2 linked regions of the Homo sapiens genome follow. The protein of the gene in region 1 interacts with the protein of each later gene in a pairwise test. Each region holds a gene or a part of one and is shown in the gene's direction. Other genes may lie near its edges.

Region 1 (7,032 bases):
TCTTTTTGTTAAGTATATTGTCTAGTTTTGAGCTATGCATTACATTTTCTCTTTAAGAAAAATGAATTAGTATGCATTTCAACTTCAGGCTTTATTCTAAAGTCTATATTATTATGACTTTTTCTAAAGAATACATATTTATGTGTTGTGTGAATGGACAAAGACACTTAATGAGCCTTCAAACATTTGTGGATGGATGAATGGATGGAAGATGGCTTGATGACTTCCATATATTTGGGTCTCAGGAAAGTTGTTTATTTCATAAGTTCTCAGGATGTAGCAAATTAATAAACTGCATATATTTGGAATAGAATTTCATTCTTTGTGTGTTTTTATTTCACAGAAGAAATGTGAAACAAATTCTAGCAAGAAGCAAAGCATTACAGTGGACGAAGTCCTATGTTTTACCAGAGTTTCCCTATGATGTCAAATGCATGTTAGCAGAGCAGAAGTGCCCGGATCACAGCATGAGGATAAGGATCATTGAGTTTCTCCAGGCCGACATGACTAAGTATCTGGAAGGCTCACTGTGAGTGACAACAGGACAAGCTTGCTGCTTTGGGAAAGGGTCTGTTTCAGAATAGAGTAGAATTCCTGTGGAATCAACTCTCTTCAGATTGTGGATGATATATTGGTAATAGGTCCCAATTGCCCAATATTTAAATCTCTTTTTGTTATATAGAAAAATGTGAAGAAAAATGAGTGTAATTAGACTCATCTTAAAGGAAGGAATGTGGTTTGCTTGAAGTGAAACATATCCTCCTTGTTTTGGTGAACAGGTACCCCAGCACCCAGCAGTACAATGACGTGGTTAATGCCCTGCTGCAGGCCCACCCTTTCCTGGATGAGGATGGCTGTGGCTTCGTAAGTGACCACATGGCACCATCCTGTTAATTTCAGACTATCTTAAAATAATTGCCTTGTGTTGCCCAGTAATTTTATGCTTCACCCATCTTTTCTTGGTGTCTCTCTCTCTCTCTCTCATTCTGTCTATGTATCTAGGTCTATCTGTTTCTGTTTTTCTGACTCTTTGTCTCTTTAATCTCTCTCCAACTTTGTTTCTGTCTTTCACTTTCTGTTAGTCCATGCTTCTTTCTTGACTTTGCGCTCTCTCTCTCTCTGGCTCTCTCTCTTTCTCTCTCTGTCTCCTTGTCTTCCCTTTTTCATAACTTCTTGGTCTCTCTCTGCCCTGTGTTTCTTTGTCTTCTTTGTCTCTCTCTGTCATCATGTTGCTGTCCTGTCAAAACTGGAAGCTCAGTGCAACAGAGCTGATCAGGAGTTGCCTAGGGCTGAGGGTGGCCAAAATGGATAGTGATTATGGTTGCACAAGCATATAAAGTTGCTAAAATTGAGCTGTTCGCTTTAGAGTCTTAAGGGTTTTAAGGGTTAGGAAGGGTCTTTAGGAGATGTGACACATAGAAAGAGAAAGACATGGCTGCACCTGCTTCGGAGCTGTCATCAAGTGTTTCTTGCCTTCTCAGACCCAGTGGAGCTGTTGTCTGGCTTTGAGGTCTGGGCCTCCAGCCTTACCTGGCCCTGTCAGATCTCTGCTTTCTGTCCTGATAAAAACAGACCCTCAGGATGCTCTGGGGCAGCAGTTCTTTTTTTTTTTTTTCCTTTTTTTTTTTTTGAGACGGAGTCTCGCTCTCTCACTCAGGCTGGAGTATAGTGGCGCGATCTCAGCTCACTGCAACCTCCGCCTCCTGGGTTCAAGCAATTCTCTGGGGCAGCAGTTCTAAGCTCTGGTTGCACATTAGGATTCCTAGAGATTCAGATTGAATTAATTTGAGGATGGGATTATTCTAATGTACAACCACGGCTGAGAACCACTGCCGCTGACGTTTCAACACAAAGTTTGCTGTTTGAACCTGCCTGTCTCCTGGATTTCAAAGACCACTGTCTTCATTGCACAACAATGTGAATATAATCAACACTATTGAACTGTACCTAAGAATAGTTAATAAAAAACTGAGTGTTTATGATGCTGTAACTTTATGAGTTAAGGAACAATTACAAGGAACTGTAGCTATGTATACAAAAAGGTAGATGGTCTATTATTCCCTGTATCTCTATATGCCATATGCATACACATTGGTAGGCATATCTAAAGAAGATAGATGTCTTTTTGTGCTTTACTGTCTCAGATGTCTGTGAAAAGATATTTTTTGCTGTGCTTTCTTAAGGACATGGAATTTCAGCAATTATTTCCAAGAACAACAAAGGATAAATGCCAATTATCTATGAATATAAAGACATTTTAAGGCTCTGTTTCCTCCCTCCCTTCCTCCTTTCCTTCCATCCTTCTTTCCTTCCTTCCTTCCTTCCTCCCTCCCCTCCCTCCTTCTTTCTTCCCTCCTTCCTTTCTTCCTTCCTTATTTGTATTTACCCCTCCCTCCCTCTCTCCCTCCCTTCCTTCCTTCTTTCCTTCCTTCCTTTCTTCCTTCTTTTTTTGTATTTTCAAGAAAAGGTTCATTATATATGGAGAGAATCACAGAATTTTCTCAGTGGGAGAGGTAATTAAAGGTTTTTTTCACCACTCAGACTGAGGAAAGATGTTGTATACCATGTCTGGAAAAATGATAGTTATTGAAGCCAAGATTAGAATTCAGGTATTCTTGCTTCTAGGATGACATCCTTTCCAAAATATGCTGCTGCATATAAAGTGCACTACAGAAGAAACTGAATTTCCTCTAAAAAAACAAAACAAAGCGAAGGAAAAAAAACAAGGCAACAACAACAATACTACACAAACCTGGCATCCCAACATTGACAATCATGTCAATATGGCTGACAAAACTGATTCTCGGAATTTCTTCTACACTGGAGATACATCTACCAACTTAATGTCTAATCAGTGTTACTGTGTATAGAACTTGTGGTTTTTTTTTTTTTTTTTTTTTTTGAGACAGAGTCTTGCTCTGTCGCCCAGGCTGGAGTGCAGTGGCACGATCTCGACTCACTGCAAGCTCCGCCTCATGGGTTCACGCCATTCTCCTGCCTCAGCCTCCCGAGTAGCTGGGACTACAGGTGCCCCCCACCACGCCCAGGTAATTTGTTGTATTTTTAGTAGACATGGATTTTCACCATGTTAGCCAGGATAGAACTTGTGTTTTTTTTTTAAATTTACATTTACTGTTTGAATAAATTACATATTTACATAGCTCAAAATTCAAAAACTACAAAAGGGTATAAATAGAAAAGTTTCCCACCCGCCCTTGCTTCTGCAGCCACCTAATTTTCCTCCCCATAAGTAACCAATACTATTAGAGTCCCTCTAGAGAATCTTTGCATATACCTAAGCAAATCCATATTGATTCAATACCTTTTGACCTTTAGTTTGATGGTTATCAAAGTGAGACATGTACAAAGTAACAAATAATGCTTTCTTTGCTCTTGTGTCCATTTTATCCACATCTGTTCCCAGTGACATTCACTAAGGACCGTTAACTGATAAAGAGATGTGTGCAAAATTGCTTAGCAGATTAGGGCTCAGATTTGCACTCATAGAGTAGAAGGAGAAACTCTGGTGCCTGGATGGATGTTTACCCAAATTCTCCCTGCGAGTGTGTGTGAGGTTGTGTTTCTAATGTTACAGTGGAAAATGTACAAAATTTCAGAGAACATTAATGGGAGGCAGGGGTGGAGAAAGAAAAAGGGTGCACAAACTTGGTTATTTTTAGGGCTAAGTTTATTTTTAACTCTTAATTTTGAAAAATTTGGGGCCGGGTACGGTGGCTCATGCCTATAATCCCAGCACTTTGGGAGGCCAAGGCGGGCAGATCACCTGAGGTCAGGAGTTTGAGACCAGCCTGGCCAACATGGTGAAACTCTCTCTCTACTAAAAATACAAAAATTAGCCGGGCATGGTGGTGGGCACCTTTAATCCCAGCTACTCAGGAGGCTGAGGCAGGAGAATCGCTTGAACCGGGAGGCCGAGGTTGCAGTGAGCTGAGATCACGCCATTGCACTCCAGCCCAGGTAACAAGAGCGGAACTCCGTCTCAAAAGAAAAAAGAAAGAAAGAAAAAGAAAAAAGAAAAGAAAAGTTTCAAATCTGAACAAAAGTTGAAAGAATGCTACATTGATATGCATATACTCCTAACAACATGGATTTTCTCAACCTCTTGACTGTTTACCTTTGGGGCTGGATAATTCTTTCTGCTGGGGACTGTCTAGTACATTGAAGTATATTTAGTAGCATCCCTGGCACCCACTAGGTGTGAGTAGCACTCTGTCCACCCAGTTGTAACAACCAGACATGTCCCCAAACATCACTAAAGTAAGCACACTACAGAATAAAGCAAAATTTCTCTTAAAAAACAAAACAAAGCAACAACAACAACAAAACCAAACAAGGGGAGGGAGAGGAGCAACATCACGTCACTGGCTGAGAGTTACTGATCTAGATTAGGGATTTTTTTGCCACATTTATTTTTCTTCTGTCATATTTGTTTGCTTGTTTGTTTGTTTTGGTTGAGCATTTAAAAGCAAGTTGCAGATGTCATCCCTAAACACCATAACATATATAAGAACAGCTGGGAGTGGTGGTTCACGCCTATAATCTCAGCATTTTGGGAGGCCAAGGCGGACGGATCACTTGATCCCAGGAGTTCAAGACCAGCCTGGGCAACATGGTAAAACCCCATCCCTACAAAAAAAAAAAAAAAAAAAAAAAAAAAATTAGCCAGGTATGGTGGCATGAGCCTGTAGTCTCAGCTACTTGGGAGGCTGAGGTGGGAGGACCACTAGAGCCCAGGAGGTTGAGACAGCAGTGAGCTATGATTGCACTACTGCACTCCGGCCTGGATGACAGAGCAAAACCCTGTCTCAAAAATAATAATAATAAAAAAAAAGGTCGTGTACGGTGGTTCACGCCTGTAATCCTAGCACTTTGGGAGGCTGAGGCGGGTGGATCACCTGAGGTCAGGAGTTCAAGACCATCCTGGCCAACATGGTGAAACCCCGTTTCTACTAAAAACACAAAAATTAGCTGGGCATGGTGGCAGGTAACTGTATTCCCAGCTACACGGGAGGCTGAGGCAGGAGAATCGCTTGAACCCAGGAGGCAGAGGTTGCAGTGAGCCAAGATCAGTGTCGTCGTACTCTAGCCTGGGGGACAAGAGCGAGACTTCATCTCCAAAAAAAAAAAAAAAAAAAGAATAAGGACAATCTCTTATATAACCACAATACCATTCTTATACCCAAGAAAATTAGCAATAAGTGCATAATATCATATACAATCCATATTCACATTTCTCCAATTTTTCAAAAATGTTTTAAAGATAGTTTTTTGCTATAATATCTAATTGAGTATTATGCATTGCATTCGTTATTATGTCTCTTTAATTTTTTTTTTTTTTTTGCCTAGACAGTCTCTCCATACCCTTTTTTATTTTTCTGGATATTTGCTTTTTGGACAAGTCTAGTCCAGTTGCCATGTAAGACGGTCCACATTCTGCATTTGAATGTGCAAAGATCTGCTCGTGATGCTGTGGACTGCTTCATATGTCACAACAGGAGGTCTGCAATTTCAGGGCCATTTTTTATTTCAGAGTGGTTGACGGAGAGCTGTCTTCATGTAGAACTTTCTACACCCTCTCTAGCTGGAAACATGGAGGAGAGGGATGATTATTCTATAACATAAATATTTCCTACTGAGTCTGCCTACCTGAGGCGTCTGCGTAAGTAACTCATGGTGTCAGGCATATAGCAGATTCTCAGTAAATATTCATTGATTGAATACTCATGTGGAAGATTGTATTTGATTTGTCCTTTTTCTGTTCCTATCAGACAGTTAATAAGGAGAGATGGGAGAGGCTAGAAAGAAGAAATTGGCAATTTAAAAATGTCCTAGCCGTTGATTGCTATAATACCTCCCACCAGGTTCAGCACATTTAGAAACCCTTCAGAGCTACAGGAAACATATGGAAAAAAAATGTACTATACTTGCTTTAGTTCATATTTCATGGCTAAGAAAAATACAAGCCATTCTTTTTGTCTGTTCTGTGGTAAAACAGCAATGGTAAAGTCCAGGCTCACAAGCAAGCCTATGGGAGGTGATAAGGCACCTCTGACTCATGCATACCTGGGAGCTTAATCAGTGCTGAAGCCATACTCCAACCCTCAACCACTGCCTTTCTTACTAGGGCTGTTGAAGGACTTTACAAACAGCACTTTAGTTTACAAATATCTTCTATGAGTAGCTACTCACTCTCCCAAAAGGCTAGTGCAGTTGATAGGACAGATCTTATTGTTCCGTTTTATAGTTGAAGAAACTAAAATTAAGAGGGGTTACTTGGCTGATATGTATTCACACTAGTACTTGGACCTGCAGTCTTCCCAACTTAGGCTATGGTGCTTTCAGGGATTACTCTCATTGGGACTTACAAACCATATAACCAGGAATGGCAAAATCTAAGTGCCAAGCATTTGGCTAATGTTATTTTGGTGTCATTCCCATTGGCCCATGAGGAAATAGAGCTTAGAAAACATGCCCAAAGCCATTTGGCGACTTACCACTTTCTCTCTTGGCCAGGGCTCGAGGGAAACACAGGCCCATATGCCTGCAGGGGTTTTTTTTTTTTTCCCTTCCCCGCACTCACTGTGGGGATCTATTCAATCACACGGCATTGCAGCGGAGAAGAGCAGCAGAAGCAGCCCTAAGGCACTGTCTTCAAGAAGGGTTGGGCCAGCCGGGCGCGTGGTGGCTCACGCCTGTAATCCCAGCACTTTGGGATGCCGAGGTGCGCAGATTACCTGAGGTTGGGAGTTTGAGTCCAGCCTGACTAACATGGAGAAACCTCGTCTCTACTAAAAATACAAAAAATTAGCTGGCTGTGGTGGCACATGTCTGTAATCCCAGCTACTCAGGAGGCTGAGGCAGGAGAATCGCTTGAGCCCAGGAGGTGGAGATTGCAGTGAGCCAAGATTGCGCCATTGCACTCCAGCCTGAGCAACAAGAGTGAAACTCCGTCTAAAAAAAAAAAGAAGGGTTGAGCCACCACTCATGCAGTGAGTTAGTTACCAGCTAAGC
Region 2 (7,032 bases), about 110 Mb from region 1:
CTCACGCATGAGTTTTCCTTGCTCGTTGGTATGGAAATGTGGGAGCGTTTGGCATTCCCTTTCTTAAGAGTGAGTCTTGAAATTTAAAGATAAAAGTTCATTATTAGAACTTCTTTTTACAAGGGAAGGCTGTACAGAACACAGTTATTTGTCACTTACAAAAACCCTAGGTGGGCAGGGCGCAGTGGCTCACGCCTGTAATCCCAGCACTTTGGGAGGTAGAGGCTGGTGGATCATTTGAGGTCAGGAGTTCGAGACCAGCCTGGCCAACATGGTGAAACTCCGCCTCTACTAAAAATACAAAAATTAGCCAGGCATGGCGGCAGCCGCCTATAATCCCAGCTACTCAGGAGGCTGAGGCAGGAGAATCGCTTGAACCCGGGAGGCGGAGGTTGCAGTGAGCCGAGATTGGCACATTGCCCTCCAGCCTGGGCGACAGAGTGAGACTCCATCTCAAAAAAAAAACACCTGGGTTGCGAGAGTAAATAAGTGACATTACTCCTTCAACACTTCATTTCTTCAGCATAAGTGTTTTAGGGTTTTTTTAACCTTATTTTTCATTTCCGTCCCAGTCTTTAAGCGCCTCTCTTGTCATATGAGAAATTCTATTCTTACTGAAATGTCCTTTGATATCGAGACACCAAATTTCTAAACCTGCACCTTCCTAGATATCTGATCAAAATCATTAAGGATTGAGAACTTTCTGTTGTATCATTTGTCATTTCATTATGATGTTCATTGATGATGTTGGAGCAAAACCAATAAGGGCCATTAAATCATTGCCCCTTCCAAGCTGGCTGCAGTGGCTCATGCCTGTAATCCCAGCACCGGGAGGCCAAGTGGGTGGATCACTGAGGCCTGTTCAAGACCAGCCTGGCCAACATGGCAAAACCCCACCTCTACAAAAAGTACAAAAATTAGCCGGGTGTGGTGGCGTGCACCTGTAGTCCCAGCTACCTGGGAGGCTGAGGTGGGAGGATCACTTGAGCCCAGGAGGCACAGGTTGCAGCAAGCCGAGATCACGCCACTGCACTTCAGTCTGAGCAACGAAGCAAGACCTTTTCAAAAAAAAAAAAAAAAAAAGGAAGGAAGGAAGGAAAAAAATCATTGCCCCCTCTAAAAAATAGTTACAAAGTAGGGGGCAGAGTAGAGAAAGGGGGTTATGTTTCAGTAGGGATTTCAGTGTTGCTCCAACATGGACAAGGATTGAATGCTGAAGGCCGCTACTTTATTGTGTTTGTTTTAAAATCGGATCATTGGCTACACACAGTGGCTCATGCCTGGAATCCTAGCACTTTGGGAGGCCAAGGAAGGAGGATTTCTTGAGGCCAGGATTTCAAGACCAGCCTGGTTAACATAGCAAGACCCCATCTCTCCAAAGAAAGAAAGAAAGAAAGAAAGAAAATCAGATCATTGAAAAGAGGGTCTGGATGTGAGATACCAAAACCCAAGGGTGTGGAATTCCCAAAGCCCAATCCCACAGCTCTCAGAATCACAGCATGTTGCACTGTGCATACCTACAGCTGCTACCTGTGGAAGCAATCACATCCGCTGCTTGCTAGCCTGGGTCATGTCAGTTCCACTGATATTTGGCCTCTTGTCTGTTGGGCATTGGTTTGCCCACACAGCAGCAGTAACTCAGACTTCAGTGGTTAGTAAGAGACTGAGATACTTGACCATAAGAACTGGCTCCAGGGTCACCATTTGTATGTCCAGGTTTGAACACACTGATCTGATTTGTCTGAAAGAGCTGTCGTCTCTAGTGTTAATGGCGAGTTGTTACTTTCCAATGAGAAAGGGGACGGTGTGAAGGGGAACTTCAATGACAACTTGAAAAGGAAGAGAGAGATGGACAAACCAAGCATGTAACCCACTGAGAAAACATTCAGTGCACTAGCCCTATTTTTGTATGGTATTTGGGTTTTTTAACCATAATCAAATTCGGTTTTTAACAGTCTCACTCCGTCATCATATGAGTGGCTGTACTGGGAATTCTTTTGAAACTTGCAGAGAACAGGATTATTTCTGGCGGCCTCTGCTGAGTTGGCGTGTGTGTGTGTGTTTGTGTGTGTGTGTATTAGGGAGAGGAAATCGTAGGTCCAGTGTGGACCCAGAGCTAAGGGGAATCTTGGAGAGTAGTGGCTCTGGCAGATGAGGATTCAGAAATCGAGTGCAAGGACTGTTCTGGACTTTCACTGCTAACCTGCTTTTTCTCAGTGCCTGGCTCTGAGGGCAGGGTCCAGCTGGTGTCATGCTCTCCAAGGGCTTCATTTTATGTTCCAGCCAGGCAAAGGAGAGGTGAGAAATGGAACCAACATTTCTGAAAAGGAAATTTAAGAACTGCATCATCTGCCCTTGAAGAAGAAAAGGAGAAAAAAAAACAGGAGAGAGGGTATTGAGAACATCTTAGGGGAGTTGTTAACTCCATTAAAAAATATATGTGTTACAGTGTTCACTTGCCCAGTGTCTTCATAATCTTCCTTTATAATGTGCAGCTGCCACGGCTAGTGTTTTTGTTTTTGTTGTTGTTGTTTTGTTTCGTTTTTGGAGACAGAGTGTCGCTCTGTTGCCCAGGCTGGAGTACAATGGTGCAATCTCGGCTCACTGCAACCTCTGCCTCCTGGGTTCAAGCAATTCTCCTGCCTCAGCCTCTCAAGTAGCTGGGACTACAGCCGTGTGCCAGCTAATGTTACACCAGGCTAAATTTGTTTTTTATTTTTTATTTTTGGTAGAGACGGGGTTTCACCATGTTAGCCAGGATGGTCTTAATCTCCTGACCTCGTGATCTGCCTGCCTCGGCCTCCCAAAGTGTTGGCTAGTGTTTTCTCTGCTTCAGTGCTTGGGGTATGATTGGGTTATGGGAGTTCACACCGAGTCCAGGGCCTAGTCTTAATCTTGCCAAAGATGTTCTTTCCCCGGTGCTCATGTTCTGATGTCCTTTCCCTCCTTCCCTTTCTCCTCCCTTTCCTTTTCCCTTTGTCACTGCCCTCTTCCCTTTCCCAGCATCCAGAGCTGCTGTTGGCGGATTGTACCCACGGGGAGATGATTCCTCATGAAGAGCCTGGATCCCCTACAGAAATCAAATGTGACTTTCCGTTTATCAGACTAAAATCAGAGCCATCCAGACAGTGAAACAGTCACCGTGGAGGGGGGACGGCGAAAAATGAAATCCAACCAAGAGCGGAGCAACGAATGCCTGCCTCCCAAGAAGCGCGAGATCCCCGCCACCAGCCGGTCCTCCGAGGAGAAGGCCCCTACCCTGCCCAGCGACAACCACCGGGTGGAGGGCACAGCATGGCTCCCGGGCAACCCTGGTGGCCGGGGCCACGGGGGCGGGAGGCATGGGCCGGCAGGGACCTCGGTGGAGCTTGGTTTACAACAGGGAATAGGTTTACACAAAGCATTGTCCACAGGGCTGGACTACTCCCCGCCCAGCGCTCCCAGGTCTGTCCCCGTGGCCACCACGCTGCCTGCCGCGTACGCCACCCCGCAGCCAGGGACCCCGGTGTCCCCCGTGCAGTACGCTCACCTGCCGCACACCTTCCAGTTCATTGGGTCCTCCCAATACAGTGGAACCTATGCCAGCTTCATCCCATCACAGCTGATCCCCCCAACCGCCAACCCCGTCACCAGTGCAGTGGCCTCGGCCGCAGGGGCCACCACTCCATCCCAGCGCTCCCAGCTGGAGGCCTATTCCACTCTGCTGGCCAACATGGGCAGTCTGAGCCAGACGCCGGGACACAAGGCTGAGCAGCAGCAGCAGCAGCAGCAGCAGCAGCAGCAGCAGCATCAGCATCAGCAGCAGCAGCAGCAGCAGCAGCAGCAGCAGCAGCAGCAGCACCTCAGCAGGGCTCCGGGGCTCATCACCCCGGGGTCCCCCCCACCAGCCCAGCAGAACCAGTACGTCCACATTTCCAGTTCTCCGCAGAACACCGGCCGCACCGCCTCTCCTCCGGCCATCCCCGTCCACCTCCACCCCCACCAGACGATGATCCCACACACGCTCACCCTGGGGCCCCCCTCCCAGGTCGTCATGCAATACGCCGACTCCGGCAGCCACTTTGTCCCTCGGGAGGCCACCAAGAAAGCTGAGAGCAGCCGGCTGCAGCAGGCCATCCAGGCCAAGGAGGTCCTGAACGGTGAGATGGAGAAGAGCCGGCGGTACGGGGCCCCGTCCTCAGCCGACCTGGGCCTGGGCAAGGCAGGCGGCAAGTCGGTTCCTCACCCGTACGAGTCCAGGCACGTGGTGGTCCACCCGAGCCCCTCAGACTACAGCAGTCGTGATCCTTCGGGGGTCCGGGCCTCTGTGATGGTCCTGCCCAACAGCAACACGCCCGCAGCTGACCTGGAGGTGCAACAGGCCACTCATCGTGAAGCCTCCCCTTCTACCCTCAACGACAAAAGTGGCCTGCATTTAGGGAAGCCTGGCCACCGGTCCTACGCGCTCTCACCCCACACGGTCATTCAGACCACACACAGTGCTTCAGAGCCACTCCCGGTGGGACTGCCAGCCACGGCCTTCTACGCAGGGACTCAACCCCCTGTCATCGGCTACCTGAGCGGCCAGCAGCAAGCAATCACCTACGCCGGCAGCCTGCCCCAGCACCTGGTGATCCCCGGCACACAGCCCCTGCTCATCCCGGTCGGCAGCACTGACATGGAAGCGTCGGGGGCAGCCCCGGCCATAGTCACGTCATCCCCCCAGTTTGCTGCAGTGCCTCACACGTTCGTCACCACCGCCCTTCCCAAGAGCGAGAACTTCAACCCTGAGGCCCTGGTCACCCAGGCCGCCTACCCAGCCATGGTGCAGGCCCAGATCCACCTGCCTGTGGTGCAGTCCGTGGCCTCCCCGGCGGCGGCTCCCCCTACGCTGCCTCCCTACTTCATGAAAGGCTCCATCATCCAGTTGGCCAACGGGGAGCTAAAGAAGGTGGAAGACTTAAAAACAGAAGATTTCATCCAGAGTGCAGAGATAAGCAACGACCTGAAGATCGACTCCAGCACCGTAGAGAGGATTGAAGACAGCCATAGCCCGGGCGTGGCCGTGATACAGTTCGCCGTCGGGGAGCACCGAGCCCAGGTAACGTTAGCCAGGGTGGCACAGGGATGGGACACCACACCGTGATGCCATCATCATCTCCTGGCAAGACGAATTGCTTCTATGAGGCAGGATTAAGGGTTCTCGGGTACACCTAGACCTTAGACTCGGCCTTTCCCAACTGCGTTCTCTAGAAAAAATAAGCCCCATTTCCCCGTGATCTCTGCTGTGTGTAATGAATTAACCTCCATGCATGGAGAGTGGGGCTAGTTATGGAGTCCTTGAGACAATCCAGAAACTCACCACTCTAGTTATTTTTTGAATTCTGTGATTAAGATGAGGAACCCTGATTAGGAAACGCTGCTGGACTTCAGGTCCTTCTAGTGGTCATTCGGCACTTTTTCTTACCAGGAAAAGACAGAGGATGCCGTTGGAGTGAGGGGATTAGATGCTAAAGCAATCATATCCCATTGCAACATCCATGTTTTAAAATATGTCTTATTAGCTGGGTACAGTGGTATATGCCTTCGGTCCCAGCTACTCCAGAGACTGAGGCAGGAGGATCACTTGAGCCCAGGAGTTCGAGGCTGTAGTGAGCTATGGCTGAACCTGTGACTATCACTGCACTCAAGCCTGGGCAACATAGCAAGGCCCGGTCTCCAACATATATATAATGTCTTATTATTTAGGTATGATAAGGCCAACAGATAGATCAGCAGACAACTCTCTTTGACGAGATAATTTTTATACTCTCTGATCCCAAGAGGAAAGGGCACTCTACACCAAGAGGTGTAGAACACCGTAAAGTGGGGGGCACCTGGGGAAGCCCCAGGTGGGTCAGGAGGTGGAGGGAGTGAGGGGAAATGTGGCAAACAACAGCCTTTATTGTGGTTTCATGGGAGGCAGGGTAAACGGGTTTAGGATTGGTTAGAGTGGATAATTCCAGTGTGCTCTGGGGTGTAGGGGCTGTCCTTAGTTGTCTGGCTGCTGGTGCTGGGGTGATCAATACAGGTGGAAGGGCTGGGCACAGTGGCTCACACCTGTAATCCCAGCACTTTGGGAGGCTGAGGCGGGTGGATCACCAGAGGTCAGGAGTTCGAGACCGGCCTGGCCAACATGGTGAAACCCTGTCTCTACTAAAAATACAAAAATTAGCCGGGCATGGTGGTGTGTGCCTGTAATCCCAGCTACTCCAGAGGCTGAGGTAGGAGAATTGCATGAACCCGGGAGGTGGGGATTGCAGTGAGCCGAGATCAGGCCACTGCACTCCAGCCTTGGACACACAGCAAGACTCTGTCTCAGACAAAAAAAAAAAAACAGATGGAAGGCAGCCCTAAGTGTGATGGACCAATATAGGAGGCTGCTGGGGAGTGGGCTCTGGACTGGTTAGTTTGCATATGAAAGTCAGGCTCCTAGGAATTAGCTCTGGACTGGTTGGTTTGCATATAAAAGTCAGGCCTCTAGGAATTAGCTAATCCTAGGAGAGACTATACCTCTGGGATCCACAAGACACTAAAATATCAAAGCATCAGAAAATAAAAGCGTGGTTAATACAATCTGAGAAGTCAGGGCTGTCCCAGGTGACCTGCTGGGCTTGGGGTAAAGTCAGCTGTAGCCAAGATGAGTCACTGGAAGTATGGTTAACGCTCTTAATTTCCACAGGCTCCTTCAATCTACCCTTTTCCAGGTTCTTAGATCGATTACATGCATTTATTCCACAGCCCATTTCTTTCACTGCCCAAGTTGCTGGGAGTCCAGCAGGTTCAGCCTGCAGCTGAGAGCTTTCCTGGCTATCGAGCGTACTTTCTACAAGTGTTTCCATCTAGGATTTGAAAACATTCAAATGGGACAGAGCCTCCTTCCAGCTTGAGTTGAAAATAGTCATGAAATAGCTGCTATTTGGGACATTCAGATAAAATAAAACAAGAAAAAAAAGATAAACTAATTAATGGTTTGAATTGTTTTGGGCATTTTTTTTTTTCATTTTTGAGACA

What was found.
Region 2: the proteins of SAMD3 (region 1) and ATXN1 interact in binary tests that used the Homo sapiens proteins (3 or more experiments, as listed by UniProt).

What each region holds. Positions count from the first base shown.
Region 1 is NC_000006.12:130,177,935-130,184,966, reverse strand, and holds part of SAMD3 (sterile alpha motif domain-containing protein 3), read left to right. Parts: intron 1-343; coding exon 344-529; intron 530-779; coding exon 780-864; intron 865-2,625; coding exon of another isoform or gene 2,626-2,661; exon of another isoform or gene 2,662-2,895; intron 2,896-7,032.
Region 2 is NC_000006.12:16,324,442-16,331,473, reverse strand, and holds part of ATXN1 (ataxin-1), read left to right. Parts: intron 1-3,003; 5' UTR 3,004-3,042; coding exon of another isoform or gene 3,043-3,132; 5' UTR 3,133-3,163; coding exon 3,164-5,080; intron 5,081-7,032. Other genes in the region: uncharacterized LOC127903862, read left to right, coding at 3,043-3,132. UniProt on the Homo sapiens protein: Chromatin-binding factor that repress Notch signaling in the absence of Notch intracellular domain by acting as a CBF1 corepressor. Binds to the HEY promoter and might assist, along with NCOR2, RBPJ-mediated repression. Binds RNA in vitro.